Regions from separate parts of the Homo sapiens genome. Here region 1 is linked to region 2. Evidence: fine-mapped expression QTL. A gene starts in region 2. The other region holds a variant in brackets. All regions are shown on one strand. Distances are from middle to middle.

Region 1 (5,358 bases), 150 kb after region 2:
TCTGTCTGGAGCTCTGCTTAGCTGGGTCCATTTTCTAATTTCCAAGTTACTGAAGGCAATTTTTTTTTTTTTTTTTTTTTTGAGACAGAGCCTGGTTCTGTTTCTCAGGCTGGAGTGCAGTGGTGCGATCTCGGCTTACTGCAGCCTCTGCCTCCCGGGTTCAATTGATTCTCCTGTCTCAGCCTCCTGAGCAGCTGGGATTACAGGTGCCCGCCACCACGCCCGGCTAATTTTTGTAGTTTTAGTAGAGACAGGGTTTTGCCATGTTGGCCAGGCTGGTCTTGAACTCTTGACCTCAGGTGATCCACCCACCTTGGCCTCCCAAAGTGCTGGGATTAGAGGCACAGGCCACAGCACCCGCCCAAAGGCAATTTTTTTCACCCAAATTTTTCACTACTACCTAATCATGGTTTCTTCTGCTAATAGTCTCCTCCCCGTGTTTCTGTTCTCCAGCCCCAGACTGCACTCGCAGTCAGTGCACTGCGTCTTAGGTGTTGCTTCTGCCAACAGCTGTCTTAGACGAGGTGGCTCTGCCAACACCTGTCTTAGACGAGGTGGCTCTGCCGGCACCTGTCTTAGACGAGGTTGCTGTGTCAAAATTCCACAGACCGACTGGCTTCACAGCAGACATTTCTTTCTCCCAGCTCTGCAGGCTGGGAGTCCAGCCTCCAGGTGCCACAGACCCAGTTCCTGTTGAGGGACCACCCCCAGCTTACGGACAGCAGCCTCTTGCTCATGTGACCGTCCCGTGTGTGCTCCTGGAGAGGAGGCTCCGGTGTCTCTTCCCATGAGGGCACTCATCTCATCGTGAGGGTCCCCCAGGATCTTCTCTAAACCTGCTCCCCTCCCAAAGGCCCCACCTCCAACACTGTCTTGCTGGGGGTGAGGACTTTAACATGTGAACTGGAGGTGAGGGACAAGTATCCAGTCCACAGCAACCCCAACTCTGGGACCCAGTTTCTCTACTGGCACTTGCTGAGTAACCACCCACCCAGACGCCTGGTGGCTCACAGCTGCAGGGACACGGTGCTTCTGTGGCCGCAGGCGTGAGGACCCGGGTCCTGGCCTCCCTGGGGCCTGTTCCTCGGCTGTGCCCGGTTACTCAGGGCTGCTCTGGTCCTGCCTCCCCAAGGAGAGCCCTTGTGAGGTCACAGGTGCAGAAGGAAGCCCGTCCGATGCAGACGGATGTTCCAGCCAGGCGGAGAGGAGAAAATCAGTACCTAAAGCATCTGACAGAAAAGGAAAAAAAAATCCAAAATAAACCATTTAGAATAGACTCAGAGGACATAACACACCTGGGACTGACTTACATGATATTTAGGAAAGATGTGTAAGATTTCTACATGTAAACTGAGAGATGGGATGTTATTATTACAAATTTTCCTAAGCCAGGGTCACCCATGCTGGAGGGCCGTGGTACAATCACAGCTCACTGCAGCCTCAACCTCCCGGGCTCATCCTCCAACCTCAGCCCCACGGGTAGCTTGAGACTACAGGCGCGCACCACCATGCCCAGCTAATTTTGGGGGTTTTTGTTTGCTTGTTTTGGGAGAGACAGGGTCTCATTATGTTGCCCAGGCTGTTGAGATGGAACATTACTCACAAACATGTAAAAACTCAAACGATGGCGGGTCTGCCCATTCATGGATGGAACAGGGGGTGTCAACATGTAAAAACTCAAACAACGGTGGGTGCCTGTTCGTGGATGGAGCAGGGGGTGTCAACATGTAAAAACTCAAACAACGGCGGGCGTGCCTGTTCGTGGATGGAACAGGGGGTGTCGGGAAGGCGTCAGGGCTCCCGGTTGCTGTCAGTCGCCCGTGAGACCCGAGCAGCAGTCGCTCTGTTCTTGTGATCATGGCTGAGTGGGATCCAGTGTGAGTCTCCACCCGGCCTGTTACCCAGTTCCAGCTGCAGGGCCTGGGCGCCCTTTTCCGCCTGGGCAGCAGTGAATGAAGTTGCTCTAAGTCCCTTGCTGCTCTTGGTGCACTTAAGAGAGGGCTCGCAGGCCACAGGATAACAGGAGAGGCTGAGTGCGCGGCATCCTCCATCATGGAAACGCATCTCGCACCAGCACACGCAGCTGGCTTTTCCACTACTTTTGCCCGTCGATGGCACCACCCAGCTTTTCTCTGGGTGGGACAGGTATCTGTCCACCTGGGGTTTCTACTCTGCATGTTTTATCTTTTTTTTTTTTTTTTTCCTGAGATGGAGTTTCACTCGTCGCCCAGGCTGGAGGATAATGCCATAATCTCAGCTCACTGCAACCTCCGCCTCCCAGGTTCAAGTGATTCTCTTGCCTCAGCCTCCTGAGCAGCTGGGACTACAGGTGCCTGCCACCATGCCTGGCTAATTTTTGTATTTTGAGTAAAGACAGGGATTCACCATGTTGGCCAGGCTGGTCTTGAACTCCTGACCTCAGATGATCCGCTCGCCTCGGCCTCCCAAAGTGCTGGAATTACAGGCGTGAGCCACCGCGCCCGGCCATGTTTTATCTTTTATCCAGGTAGTCTGTGACTATCCAAACGAGGCTCTGACAGTCTACAGGGATCGTGTCAGTCTGGAGAGTTGGGTTAAAGGCAGGTTGTTCGGGGTGAGAAGGGGACGCTGAGGCAGCAGGTGGTCACAGCCTCACGTCTCAGAAGGATGCGCTGAGCAGTCCCGGGGTTTTGGGCAAGTGAGGTCCACACCCCTCTAATGAGTACCTTTAGAGGCCACTGGCCTGCAAGTTCTGATGACGGGGAACAGCCTTA[G/A]GGGCCTCTCCCTGGAGCTCCCACTCACCCCCTCGACCCCCACCCTGCTGTGTCCTGAGCTGTGGCTTGGGAGATGTTTCTGGACTGGGACCAGACCCCGCAACCTAGAGAGCCAGCTCTAGGCTGGGAATTCCTGGGCTTAATGTCCAGGCATGAAGTCAGCTCCTTGTGTGTCCTCATCTGTACAGAGAGGGAAAGGCCCATCACCGTCTCCGCGAGGACAGACTCCGAGGTGATGTGGGTCGGGCCTGCACCCTCAGTGGTTTCCCTTCTGGAGTCTGGGCCTGCTCGGCCAGTGCCCTCATTTTCTGTGGAGCTGTTCCATGTCTGGGCACAGAAGCACCTCTCTGGGAGCAGGTGGGGACGTGAGAGCCCCCTGCTGGAACTGTTCTGTCACAGGCCCCGGGAGGAGCTGGACCTGCTGCCGGAGCCCCTTGGGGCAGCGGGTGAGCCGCGGTGTGAGAGACTCGGGCCTGGAGCACCAAGGGCCCCACAGCAGGAGGGATGGGGGTGCAGCCTCCAGGGCGCTGGGGTCCTCTTGGCTGACCAGGAGCCTTACACAGGGGCTGCCTCATGGGGTTGGCGGGAGCCCCGGTGTGAGGGAGACAGCCACAGAGGCAGCCCCGAAAGCAAAGCGCGGAGCAGATGGCAGAGGATCCCACGTGGCAGAGGAGAGGGCAGCAGAGGATCCCACGTAGCAGAGGAGAGGGCGGCAGAGGGTCCCGTGTGGCAGAGGGCAGCAGAGGGTCCCACGTGGCAGAGAAGAGGGCGGCAGAGGGTCCCGCGTGGCAGAGGATCCCACGTGGCAGAGAAGAGGGCAGCAGAGGATCCCACGTGGCAGAGGAGAGGGCGGCAGAGGGTCCCGTGTGGCAGAGAGGGCGGCAGAGGGCCCTGCGTAGCAGAGGAAAGGGCAGCAGAGGGTCCCACGTGGCAGAGAAGAGGGTGGCAGAGAAGAGGGCAGCAGAGGGTCCTGCGTGGCAGAGAGGGCGGCAGAGGGTCCCGCGTGGCAGAAGAGAGGGCAGCAGAGGGTCCCGCATAGCAGAGGGCGGCAGAGGGTCCCGCGTGGCAGAGGAGAGGGCGGCAGAGGGTCCCGCGTGGCAGAGAGGGCAGCAGAGGGTCCCGCGTGGCAGAGGAGAGGGCAGCAGAGGGTCCCGTGTGGCAGAGAAGAGGGCGGCAGAGGGTCCTGCGTGGCAGAGAGGGTGGCAGAGGGTCCCGCGTGGCAGAGGAGAGGGCGGCAGAGGGTCCCGCGTGGCAGAGGAGAGGGCGGCAGAGGGTCCCGCGCGGCAGAGAAGAGGGCGGCAGAGGAGAGGGCAGCAGAGGGTCCCGCGTGGCAGAGAAGAGGGCGGCAGAGGGTCCTGCGTGGCAGAGAGGGCGGCAGAGGGTCCCGCGTGGCAGAGGAGAGGGCGGCAGAGGGTCCCGCGTGGCAGAGGAGAGGGCGGCAGAGGGTCCCGCGTGGCAGAGGAGAGGGCGGCAGAGGTTCCCGCGTGGCAGAGGAGAGGGCGGCAGAGGGTCCCGCGTGGCAGAGAAGAGGGCGGCAGAGGAGAGGGCGGCAGAGGAGAGGGCGGCAGAGGGTCCCGCATGGCAGAGGATCCCACGTGGCAGAGAAGAGGGCAGCAGAGGATCCCACGTGGCAGAGGAGAGGGCGGCAGAGGGTCCCGTGTGGCAGAGAGGGCGGCAGAGGGTCCCACGTGGCAGAGAAGAGGGCAGCAGAGGGTCCCACGTGGCAGAGAAGAGGGCGGCAGAGGGTCCCGCATAGCAGAGAAGAGGGCAGCAGAGGGTCCCGCGTGGCAGAGGAGGGCAGCAGAGGGTCCCGTGTGGCAGAGAAGAGGGCGGCAGAGGGTCCTGCGTGGCAGAGAGGGTGGCAGAGGGTCCCGCGTGGCAGAGAAGAGGGCAGCAGAGGGTCCTGCGTGGCAGAGAAGAGGGCGGCAGAGGGTCCCGCGTGGCAGAGAAGAGGGCGGCAGAGGGTCCCGCGTGGCAGAGAGGGCGGCAGAGGATCCCGCGTGGCAGAGGGCAGCCGACAGGCAGCTCTGAGAGGATACAGGGTTGGGAAGCTCAGGCAGAAGGCCATCGTAAGAGCTAAGAGCTACGTATGGAGAGTGTGGAGGTGATGAGAACTGAACGGGGGCCGCTGGGCTTAGTGACCAGGCAGCAACTGTGCCCTTGCTGAATTCCAGGCGCTAAAGAACTTGGTGAAGAGTCCGGGCCCCGCTGAGAGGGTGGCGCGTGCGCAAATGTGGAATCCTCACCCAAAGTCCTCAGCCTCAGAGCACACGAAGGTGTTTCTCCTCCCCTGTCGAGCGGGAACCGGGGGTCCAGGCTGGGACGCTGATTGGATGTGACAGCCCAGCAGACTCCATGCTCGGGGTGGAGGCTTCAAAGGACACGGCAGGCGTCAGGGACTTTTCTTTCTCTTTGAGATGGGGTCTTGCTCTGTTGCCCAGGCTGGAGTGCAGGGGCGCAATCACAGCTCATTGCAGCCTCAATGTCTGCTCAAGCAATCCTCCAGCCTCAGGCCTCTAACATGCCAAGATCACAGGTATGAGCCACTGTGCCTGGCCTAGGGACTTTTTCTTTTTCTTTTTTTTTTTTTTTTGAGACAGTCTCA
Region 2 (5,358 bases):
GCAGGGTGAGGGAACAGGAGGACTCCACTCGGCCTGAAGCAGCCCCCAGGGGCAGAGACAGCTGGGGTGGGGGCGAGAGGAGGCCAGCACGCGTGGTCTCATCTGTGAGTCTGTGAGGGCACCGTGTGCACTGCACGCTGAGTGTACAAGGGTGGGTGTGCACAGACATGGGCATGCACGTGTGGGTGTGGGCACGTGCACTGGGACACGCCAGTTTGTGCCAGTTATGTGCATGCCCCAGCACGTGTGCGCGGGGCACCTGGGGTGTGTGTGTGTGAAGGAGCAGGGCGGGCACGGGTGTGTGTGCACATGCTGGCTGCGTGGGCACCGTTTGTATGCTTGTCTGGGCATGAGTGTGTGTGCACATGCTGGCTGCGTGGGCACCACTGTTTGTGGGCGTGTCTGGTGTCTGTGGTGTGCTCACAGGATTCCGGTACCTCCCCCCAAGCCCACCCTGTGATCTTGCTCATCTCAGCTCTCACCCCATCACCCCAAGTGCTCCTAAACCTCACCAGGACCAAGCAGCCCCAGCACAACCACCCAGCACCCCAGTGCCCTGAGCCCAAGAGCCCAAGATCCTGGCTGAGCGCCCGCCCTGCCCCCAGCCCCTCCGCTCCCTCAGCACCTCATTCCCAGCTCTCTGCCAGGAACCCTTTCCCGCCCCCGACACCCAGGCTCAGACCCGGGTCTCAGGACTCAAAAGTGACTTTATTTCTCCGCAGAAGACGCCCTTCCAGCTGGGCTGTTGCTTCACTTCCCCTCCGGGACCTGGGGGTCCCCCCCCACCCTCATCCCCAGGCCTCCTGCCCAGATGGCCTGGTTTCCTGGAGATGTCCAGCTGCCTGGGACTCAGAGCTGGCGGAGAGACAGGGAGGCTTCACGTCGGGGGAGGAGTGAGAGCCACAGGCCACAGCCACGGAGCTGGGCCAAGGCTGCCCCCAGCCCCAGCCACGCCAGGCTGGGGAGAGGGCAGCCACAGGCTCAGGGGAGCAAGCTCAGAAGCCCCGTGGGAAGGAGGAGACATCAGGGCCCAGCCCAGAGGAGGGCAGGCCCCAGGCTGAGCAGGAGCCCCCCGGCCAGGGCCCAGGGGCTGTGCCCTGCCCCTGCCGCCCCATTGCACAAATCCTTCTCGCAGCAGTCCACGTCGACCTTTAAGATCCCAGAGTTAATAAACCCCATCAGATAGTCTGAGAAAAAGTGTCGCTTAACGAAGTCACAGGAGGAGGCACACATCTTGTTCACCGAGTGATCCTTCCTGCCTGGGAAGAGAAAGCGTGGCCTGGGACGGGGGCTCCTCCTGGGCCCTCTCTGCCTCATCCCGAGGACCCAGCCCAGGCCCCTCCGGGTCAGCTCGGGGCCCCAGTAGGCAGGGCCGAGTCCCTCCACCCTCCCACGCTGGCCTCAACTAGATGAAAAGGGCCACCAAGGAGCCAGGGGGGGACAGCAGGACAGTATCCTGCCTGCCGCCCCACGCTCTCACTCTCGTCCCAGGCCAGAGGGGCTCCGAGGACACCTCTGACCTCTCTCAAGAGCCTGGCTTTTAGCACATTCCCCACCACCCTAAGTCCCAACTTACTGCTGCTGGGATCGGTGATTCGGACACTGGCACACACCGTGTCGGACGGCTGGCACTGCTTTGGGGTGCAATGGCTGGAGTTGGTGGTCAGGGTGCAGTCCTGGCACCACAGGCCATGAGCTGGGCAGGGCATGGGGAGGAGGGTGACCAGAGGCACTGGGGTCCAAACCAGGCAGCCCCCTGCGCCCCCCACCCATCCCCCTGCTGCAGGCACTCCTGGGAGAGCCCGACCCCACGGGAGGGAGCAGGCCCCCATGACCCCTGGAGGGGGAGCAGAGGCCCTGGGACAACTGTGCCCCATCCTGGCAGTTTGAGGGGAGCCCCTATGGCCCCTCCCTGGCCCCCATGCACGTGCGTGCACACACACACACAAACACACACACGGGCTATACAGACCCCACACCGACAGTGCCCCCCTCACACTCCCGCCCCGCCTCACATATCCCCCCCAGAGGTCCGTGGGTTCCAAGCTGTGAAGGACCAAACTGGATTTGAAAGGAGGCCCGGGAGGCTCTCAGAGGTGACGGATGACCAAGGGCTTCCGTGCGGGGCCAGCCGCCCACCAGTTCCAGGCCCTGGAGGAAGAGCGCTGGAGAGAGCCCAGTGCCGGGGCAGAGGGGCCGAGGGCCGGGCTGGGGTCGCAGGGGTCCCGGAGGGGGCGTGGGCTCTATGCGAAGTGCGGTGGGAACCGTCAGAGGGTGGCAGCCCCACACCCGGCTCTCCCGCGGCGCCTCGGGCTCTCCCAGGCACCTGACCCAGCCCGCGGGCCCCCTACTCACCGGGCGCCGAGCACAGCAGGACGGCCAGCAGCGCCAGGCCGAGGCCCTTCATGGCTGCAGGCAGCATGCTCCGGGTGGGCCTGGGGGCGGCGCGGGGGCTTGGGGCGCGGGTCCTCTGGGGCGCAAGCCTGGAGGGGAGAAGCATCGGTCAGGAGACCCCAAAGACCCTCTCCTTTCCCAGCCTCAGGATGCAACCTTCTCCCCGGAATCCAAGGCCGGGGTCCGCCCGGAGCTCGCAGAGCCCCACCCCCAGCCCCTTCTCCAGAGCGTCCGCCGTCACAGCATCCCCGCCGGGAGACGTCTGGCCTCTGGGGCGAGGTGACAGCTCGAGACGCCTCCGCCCCGCGCCGGCACCTGTGTGGGGGAGCGGATGGGGGGCGTCCTCTTCTCCCCGGGGAGCTGCAGGTGCGTCCGGACAGGAATGAGCGGCAGGGGCGGGAGCGGGTGGGACCTGCCACTGGGGGGAGGGGCGCGTGCCAGGTCCCCACCCCCACCCCTGGGCTGGGGGGCCGGGAACCCCGGGCCGAGTCCCCTCCCTTGGCCTTCCGCGCGCGCCTCGGCGCTCACCGCGGATGGGGCGTGGAGCGCGGGCCTCGGGGTCGGGGGGCTCACTCACATCCCGGGGGTGTCCGCACTCCGGGCTCGGGCGGCGTGCGCGGCGCGGGGAGCTGTGCCCTTCGGTCTCCCTGCGGACCGGAATCCGGGCGCAGCCTCGTCTTTCGGGGAACGCAGCCGCAGACGCGGACCCCGCGCGAGGGGCGGGGCGGAGCCGGGGCGGGGGCCGCGCGGGGGGCGGGGGCGGCTGGGAGACGCGCGGGGCGGGGGGCGCCCGGGGCTCGCGGCCCCCACGCAGGTAGCTGGCCCGGGCCCTCCGCGCCCCCTTGCTGGCGCGCGCGCTCCCTCGGGTTCCCGCTCCCTCCCTCGCGGCGCCCCCTGCTCCTCCCCAGCCTCCGCGGCCCCCTACCCAGGCGTGGGCAGGATCCCTTCCCCCTCTGCTTGGCTGAGATCCCCTTGGAATTTCTCGGAAGAACGTTTACTGCGAAAGGAAGCAAAATGCACAAAGACGCAGAGAGGGGGAGGTACCCGGCGCGGCGCCACGCGCAGGTCCGGGTTCGCAGACCCCTGGGGTCAGACTCCCGCCCTGGGGCCCCGCCCTCCCCCTCCTCCCCGCCCCTCCCCAACCTCATACCCGTTTCCCCGTTTCCCCGTTTCCAGTGGCTCCAGGCCGTTCTCCTCCCCTGAGCATCCATGAAGACCCCCACCAGAAGCCGCAGCCCCAGGGGCTTCTGTCGCCAAATACTCCCACACTCGGAGGTAAAGGTACAAATCCTGGCCAGAGCATCCGAGCCTTGGACCCGTTTCTCGGCTTCCTTGGCCTTCCCGCCCTGCCCTCCAGCTCCCTAAAAGCTGTGCCTTTGCACGTGTCCCTGTGCCTGAAATCCGCCTCCCCGGGGCACTGGGGAAGCCCCGATCTGCCATCGTGCCTTTGGTCCTGCTCCCTTTCATTTGACCTGAAAATGTTTACTGCATGCTCCCTGCTGCCCTAGCCCTGCCCTGAGCCCTGGGAAAGGGCATGAGGAGAGAGACCTGGTTTCTGCCCTCCTGACTCTCCCCTTGGACAAATGGTGATGCCTACTGCAGCATATCTTTGCAGGATGTGACAGAGCTAACATTTATTGAGCATGTACTATGGATTCCACCTGTTCTAGACACTTCATATTTATTATCTCCTTATAGTCTCACCACAGCCCTGCTGTGCAGATAGTATCATTTCCATCTCACAGATGAGGAGACTCACACGGAAAGGCGGCGCTCCCTGCTCGGGGTCACACAGTGACGCAGGTGACAGGTGACCCAGCTGAAGTGGGAACCCAAGCAGCTTGGGCTACAGGGACTGCACACCTCCGCTCCATTGTGGCTCCAGAGGGGTGGAGGCAAGGACGAGATGGACAAGAGACCACCACAGGAGCGTGCTTTGCCTCAGGGTCAGGGAGAGCTTCTCCCAGGACCTGATACTTTAGCCGAGAACTGAATGAGGAGTTGAGATTCATAAGGTGCAGAGGGCAAGAGCTAGATCAAGGTTCAAACACAATTCTTTTCAAAACATACAGAGCTCGCAAGAAAGTAAAAGAAATCTGAGTCCATAAAGAAAGAAGTAAATAGAATAATGGACTCCCAAAGTCTGCCCACTGAGCAGGAGGCAGATGTGAAACTCACAGTGGTCCTGGGCAGACCTGGACCCCCACGGGGTCTGAGGTCCCGGAAGCAGAGCCTGAGGCAGGGATTCCAGAGCAAGCCCTTTGGTTGGAGGTGGGGATAGCAGCCCTGGGGAGTGGGGAAGTGGTCCAGGGTGGGGAAGGAGGCTGGCAAGCATGTGGTACTCAGCAACCCCCCGCAGTGGGGAAATGGAGCCTGACCCCAGAGAGGTACTCTGGGAAGTGGTGTAAACTGTGAGCCTCAGGTGAACTCACCCAAGGGATGAGGGAACAGGTATTTCACAGCGACACCCAAGAGTCATTGATTGAGGGCTGCCCCGAGGGATGCTTTCTCCTGCACCCTCCACTTGGCACCCACACAGAGCCCTCCGGGGAGCCAGGGTGGTCCCAGGTCAGTAGCATCCCTGCTTGCAAAAGCAAAACCAACGATGAATACTCTGGAGAAAGCAAGCCCCAACTTAGGGACTGAGGTTCCCACAGATTTAACTGAATCAAATATGAGTTCAAAATGAAAAATCAGCACATGTCTAAAGAAAGCAAGCCTCCAAGTGAGACTCAGCTGACAGTGACGAGCAACAGATTTAAATCACCACAAACTTTCTAAATGGAAAATATCAAATATAGGATATAAAATTAACCTATTTGTTATGCTTAAGATATATTAAAATAAGGAACAAAGCACTATGAAACCAATCACCATGCTTATCAGAAAAAAATAGAACCTCTAGAAATGAAAAACTTTTCATTGAAATGAAAAGGTCAGCAGAAACCTTGAAAGAATTACGGT

Which allele goes with the higher level. Positions count from the first base shown, and alleles are read on the strand shown. Sizes are in standard deviations (SD) of each study's normalised expression.
In carriers of allele G in region 1, the expression in esophagus muscle of the gene that starts at base 3,095 in region 2 tends to be lower than with A alone (small effect, 0.39 SD a copy in GTEx).

Evidence for each region. PIP is the estimated chance that this variant, and not a neighbour inherited with it, causes the effect.
Region 1: its variant is the best candidate, but not a certain one, in a credible set for the expression of LY6H in esophagus muscle (GTEx, PIP 0.89).

What each region holds. Positions count from the first base shown.
Region 1 is chr8:143,303,687-143,309,044 of GRCh38, forward strand. No RefSeq gene overlaps it. Among named protein-coding and RNA genes, the nearest start is that of ZNF696, 15 kb to the left of the region's middle. RefSeq lists enhancers at 3,620-4,120, 4,121-4,621. The variant G/A (reference allele first, on the strand shown) is at 2,754.
Region 2 is chr8:143,157,227-143,162,584 of GRCh38, forward strand. It overlaps LY6H (lymphocyte antigen 6 family member H), which reads right to left and starts at 3,095. Exons shown (of 4, transcript NM_001135655.2): 1 at 2,972-3,095; 2 at 2,356-2,483; 3 at 1,577-1,696; 4 at 690-1,259. The coding sequence starts at 2,973. The coding sequence ends at 1,024. It overlaps LOC124902035 (a long non-coding RNA gene), which reads left to right and starts at 2,643. Exons shown (of 2, transcript XR_007061136.1): 1 at 2,643-2,760; 2 at 3,571-5,358.